Linked DNA regions of Homo sapiens: region 1 is linked to region 2. A link means that fine-mapping ties the variant in region 2 to the expression of a gene that starts in the linked region. Tissue or cell type: T cells. Region 2 holds a variant in brackets; the other region holds the start of a gene. All regions are shown on one strand. Distances are from middle to middle. Region 1 holds the start of LINC02648 (long intergenic non-protein coding RNA 2648). Region 2 overlaps SFMBT2 (Scm like with four mbt domains 2).

The links. PIP is the estimated chance that this variant, and not a neighbour inherited with it, causes the effect. A credible set is the group of variants that fine-mapping cannot tell apart.
Region 1: LINC02648 starts here. The variant in region 2 is the best candidate, but not a certain one, in a credible set for the expression of LINC02648 in T cells (TOPMed, PIP 0.82).

The regions. Positions count from the first base shown.
Region 1 is chr10:6,617,457-6,620,369 of GRCh38, forward strand. It overlaps LINC02648 (long intergenic non-protein coding RNA 2648), which reads left to right and starts at 1,260. Exons shown (of 6, transcript NR_120634.1): 1 at 1,260-1,320.
Region 2 is chr10:7,276,470-7,279,382 of GRCh38, forward strand. SFMBT2 (Scm like with four mbt domains 2) reads right to left here. Exons shown (of 21, transcript NM_001387889.1): 7 at 423-520. Among named protein-coding and RNA genes, the nearest start is that of SNORD129, 91 kb to the left of the region's middle. The variant G/A (reference allele first, on the strand shown) is at 1,388.

The sequences.
Region 1 (2,913 bases), 660 kb before region 2:
CCAAACAGAAATGTCATGACTGTGCTTGAGGGATACTTTCAAGATGACACAAAACCAGGTTTTTGGAGTGCTTTGAAGATGGAGAATGGCTTATTAACACTAGTCACATTGGCAGATGTTTTTCATAACATCAACCAGTTGAATAAGCCTCTGCACAGCCCTGGAGAAAATGTTTTCACCAAAAATGTCAAGAGTTTTTGGATTTAAAAGAAAACTAAAGTTTTGGAAAAAACCATGAGGCAAAAGAAATCCTTGAGATGTTTCCATTGTTGCTTGGGCCTGGGGCCATCAGTAAGTCTCAATTCTTATTGAGCAGAACCTGGCAGCACTGTAGAATGAAACTGAACCATACCTACCCTCTCTTTAAACACAAGTGCATGACCAGGCGAGGGAGCGTTTCGTTGAATCTTTGACTCAGTCTGAGAACAGAGTCTGGAGAGAAGAGGAAGAATCCTGCACCCCATGCAACCCCAGACTCTCTAGATGGGACTCACATATCACTCTGGAGGCGAGTCCTGGGTTTCTGGGTAAGAGAGTGCTCTGTCAGCCTCAGGGAAACCATGAACACTTCACTGCAGTTGCAACTTCCCGCACATAGGAACAAATTTTCTGTTATTTAATAAACACCAAGAGCAAGGGAAAAAGTTGTAGCCCTTCAGTTGACAATGACATCTGTGTGTACCTCAAGTTTGACTCAGAATTGAATTTTTAGGCAGCACATGTGTCACATTAAAGAAGGTCAAGTTGATCACCAATGACCAATGGTTTAATCAGTCACGGCTTCGTAAAAACTAAAAAGGACAGAATTCAGAGGGCTTGCAGTTAGTGGAACACGTGGAGGGCCCTGGAGGGTGTCATGCCCAGGACATGATAGCTCTGTACCCCATCCCATGTATCTCACCATATGCATCTCTTCATCTGTGTCCTTTGCAACATTCTTTAGAATAAACCAGTAAATGTGTTTCCCTGAGTCCTGTGGGCTGCTCTTGCAAATTAATCAAACCCAGGGAGAGTCGTGGAAACCCTGACTTGATGCCAGTTGGTCAGAGTTCAGGAGGCTTGGACTTGCAACTAGGAGGAAGGAGGGGGTTGGGGACTGAGCCTACAACCAATGGGATTGGTCACTATCTCCAGGTAGATAGAGTTGGAATTCAGTTGGAGGACACCCAGCTGGTGTCCACTGCTTGGTGGTGAGAAGAAACTCCCACACCTTTGGTCACAGAAGTCTTCTGTGTTTATTGTTCTAGTGTGAGAACAGAGGAGAAGCCTGGTTTGAGTGAGTTTTTCCTGAAGCAAAAGGGAAGAGCTTAATTTCAAAAGGTAAGTTAGTTATATTTTTCTCTAGGAAACAATTGATTGCTTAAAAAGATATGATTAGGCCGGGGGCAGTGGCTCATATCTGTAATCCCAGCACTTTGGGAGGCCAAGGCGGGCGGAACACCTCAAGTCAGGAGTTTGAGACCAGCCTGGCTAGCATGGCGAAACCCCGCCTCTACTAAAAATACAAAAATTAGCTGGGCATGGTGGTGGGCGCCTGTAATCCCAGCTACTCGGGGGGCTGAGGCAGGAGAATCGCTTGAACCCAGGAGGCGGAGGTTGCAGTGAGTTGAGATCATGCCACTGCACTCCAGCTTGGGCAACAGAGCGAGACTCCATCTCAAAAAAAAAAAAGATATGATTAGTTTTAAACAAGGGAAACAAATTCCACTTGCATGTACTATGTGTCACACATCTTTAGCCTTTTGTATCCTGAACATCATTTAAAACTTCCCTCCAGATTAGAAAGTTGAAGTCTGCTCATGGGGCCTTCAGTTGCTGTCTTAGAAATTCACTCTCAGGGTGTCAGAAAGTCCATCCTCCATAGGCATTTACAACAAGGAATTTGATTCCTTCTATCCCTGGTCAACTCCAGGCTTTTTAAAAAAGTAGCTTAATAAATATTAAGAGTGCATTTTTCTTTGTGAAGTTTGACACTCATTAATTAACACAATTGTTGGAAATGGGAATTTTTTTTTTTTTTTTTTTGATGGAGTCTCACTCTGTCACCCAGGCTGGAGTTCAGTGGCATGATCTTGGCTCACTGCAACCTCTGCCTCCTGGGTTCAAGCGATTCTCCTGCCTCAGCCTCCTGAGTAGCTGGGACTACAGGCGCGCACCACCATGCCTAGCTAATTTTTGTATTTTTAGTAGAGGCGGGGTTTCACCATGTTAATCAGGCTGGTCTCGAACTGCTGACCTCGTGATCTACCCTCCTCGGCCTCCCAAAGTGCTGAGATTACAAAGATTAGTGGTAGTAAAGCGGTATGGGTGGCCTAAAATATTTTAGAGACATTACTTACACTTAGAATAGCAAATTACATCCCTATCTGGGCCTGTGTTTAGAATGAGTCAGACGGTTTTTTGTTGCCTGGTGACAGGCGTTGGGGTCACAGAGTCCTCTTTCTGCGATGTTGTGTATGACCCAGAGAGTCTCTGGCAAGATGTGGACAGATCTCTAAAAGGTCGGGGAGCTCAGTCTCCACGAAGCTTGCAGAACCCTCCCCATCTGCCTGCTAATAAACGATTACGTATAAAAATGTCTAAATACGTGGTGGTGTTGAATCTGTGACTTGGTTTTATTATAACCAGGTGGCAGGAAAGTAGCCAACCCTCACTCACATAGAACTTTCCACACTACTGTTTTCTCTTCCAAAATAACCAAGAATTTTTCATGGTCAAGTACAAGTGGAAATGGCTGTCGGTTTGCAACAGCCAGGTTTACCAATGGATAGTGTTTTGCCAGGGGGTGGGACCTAGAATGAAAGGGGCAAGAGATCTGAAGGATGGGCAATGGGAGTGGTTGCACTATGGATCTGTAGAATATTCATCCTCCTAAACTGAATTAGGAGGAATGTAGTCATGGGGGTGGTTAAA
Region 2 (2,913 bases):
ATTTAAAATGGAAACTGGTTAAGAAGGTGCCTTTTCAAGTGGAAAAGGATTTGGTATGGAAAACTTTTTATTTTATTGGAGATTAAGTCTCACTCTGTTGCCAGGCTGGAGTGCAATGGTGCGATCTCAGCTCACTGTAACTTCTGCCTCCCCAGTTCAAGCAATTCTCCTACCTCACACTCCCAAGTAGCTGGGATTACAGGCACACACCACACGCCTGGCTAATTTTTGTATTTTTAGTAGAAATAGGGTTTCACCATGTTAGCCAGGATGGTCTCGATCTCCTGATGTCGTGATCCGCCCACCTCAGCCTCTCAAAGTGCTGGGATTACAGGCATGAGCCACTGCGCCCGGCCGGAAAACTTTGTAGATGATTTTATTCTCAAAAAGGGTAGATACATTGCTAAGAATCAACATCTTACCTTAAACACTTCCATTGGAAGAGGAAATTTGGCAGCATCAATAAGGGATTTTTCCAGAGTACATTTCCATTCAGAGGCCATCTTCAAAGGATAGATTTCTGTATCAACAGCAAATCACAGAAGAGTTGAAGGACTAACACGTTCTGCCGGGTGACTCTTTCCTGCATGCTAATTCCCAGGCTTTCCTGATACCTCAGCACGGTCAGTGACCGTGAGTGTTCACACCCCATACCCACCATGAGCAGCCACCTGCTGAAAGGACTTTCTGAAATTAAATAGCAACTTGGGATTCTGCTGTCAGAAATGAAGAATAAACTTAATAGAGCTCTTCTTCAGGGAACATTTGTATGCATTTAGTTGGCATTCTGTAAGTAATTTAATGGTATTAATCACATTAGCAAAAACCTTCAGTCATCCATGGGCCAAAATTCCACCTATCACCTAGGAAAGCAATGCCCACTGATGAGGAACTTATTATCTGATACATTTCTAAACTACAAACGACTCTAGTCTGGCATTTGCAGTTATGACAACATATTTTCACTAAATCTCTAAGCTCTCATCTGCTAAAAATAGTCCCTGTAAGTCAGAAAATTATTAAAAGGTAAATTAAAATTTACCAAGTTTAATATTTACACTTGAAATGTTGCTTAACACACCACATGTTGCCCATATTTTTCCCCAGGCAGTGGGAGGGGGGGCAAGATTTACAGATGGAGGTTACACAGTCTGAATGCAAAATTAAAAGGAAAAAAAAAAACGTTGAGCACTGTTTTTACCTATTGCTGAAACTGCAGGAGAATTTTATGGCCTGATCTCAACAGATTTAAGACCTTATCAAAATAGGATTTGCAGAAGCCCTCACTGGAAGTAGATATGTTTATGCCTTCAATATATCAACCCAGGCTACTTCAGACAGACGCTTAGGATATGAATATGAAATTAAGCACAGTTAAAAAGCAACA[G/A]TAAACCTTTGGGACTGTATTTTTAATTTCTTGCATGTCTGCTTTTTAGCATGAAGCGATCTATTTTGATCCTCATAGCTTTTGAACTCACCTTGAGCTTTAAGCCCCTGTTTCCGCAGTTTATTCAGTCATAATTACAGTAAGTATCAGATCCTGCCAGAACTAGCCAAGCCATCGGTGCACTGCCCGAAGTCATTGTTACTTACACAAAGACACACAAAGGGTAATTCACAACCACACATCCTCTGCGTGTGTGCATTGTCTATAATCCTTTCTAGTGTTTCCTGTCTGCTGAACTTTTTTCTTCTAGTTTGGCCTTTCTAAATTCTTCTTAGTAGTAGCTAACGTAATTGGGAACACTCAATGGGCCTCAACACACACTTCTGTGGAGACTGAAAGAATGGGGCCTCTGATGTCCACAGTGAGAAGGGGGCACTCAGGAAGACACTGCTTATCACAGGATCCCCAAAAGTAGGCACAGGGACCAGTTCACAGAGCCCCCTGCAAGCTGCTCCATGAGAGCGAGAGGGATACCTGTGCACTCAGGCAAGCTCGTGGGCACTGCATCCAAACCACGGAGAGACAGAAGGCCACTCAGGGGACCCCGGGGAGCAAAGCCCTGAGGACGCCAACGCAGGATCAGGAGAGAAATTGCCAACAGGCTGGAGCTCCTGATGGGACAGGGACCATAAACACATGCCCCTTTCCAGCAAGCTGGGCAGGCAGATGGAGAGTTCAACCTGGGCATGGTAGGAAAAGGACCAGCTCACAGAAAACAATGGGGATTACCAAAGAAAGAATTTGAAGACCCAACAGGTGCAAAAAGGAAAAGCATGATCTACCTGGCTGACACCTTTGGCCCCTTGCTTGGGAATCAGGACTAGTTATACCCTTGACCCTTGATGGTGGTCTCTGAATGGGGGAGGGATGCCCTGAGACAGAAGAGAAGGTATAAGAATGGTCAAAAAACACCTTCATTGGGAGGCTGAGGTGGGTGGATCACTTGAGGTCAGGAGTTCAAGACCAGCCAGGCCAACATGGTGAAACCTCACTTCTAATAAAATTTAAAAAAACAAAACAAAACAAAAACAAAAATTAGCTGGGTGCGGTGGCAGGCGTCTGTAATACCAGCTACTCGGGAGGCTGAGGCAGGAGAATCGCTTGAACCCTGGAGGCGGAGGTTGCAGTGAGCTGAGATTGTGCCACTGCACTGCACTTCATCTCCAAAAAAAAAAACCAAACAAACAAGAAAAAAAAAACTTAAGGCCAGGAGGAATGGAAATCCAACATGACCAGGGTTAGATCCAAGCTATGAGAACTCACGGAGAGGATGCTCTGGCCCCAGTGGGGTTGCCTGCACGCTGGCCCAGGAAGGCAGACCAACCAAGTCATCCCTGAAAAATGAACTCCTCTGTCCACTGGATGCCATCTCTCCTCCTCCACACCAGAGACAAAGGTAACAAGAAGCCCAGGTGCCAGGTGGGTCCTGCCTCTGTCCTACAACCTGAAGATTCTCTGTTTTCTTT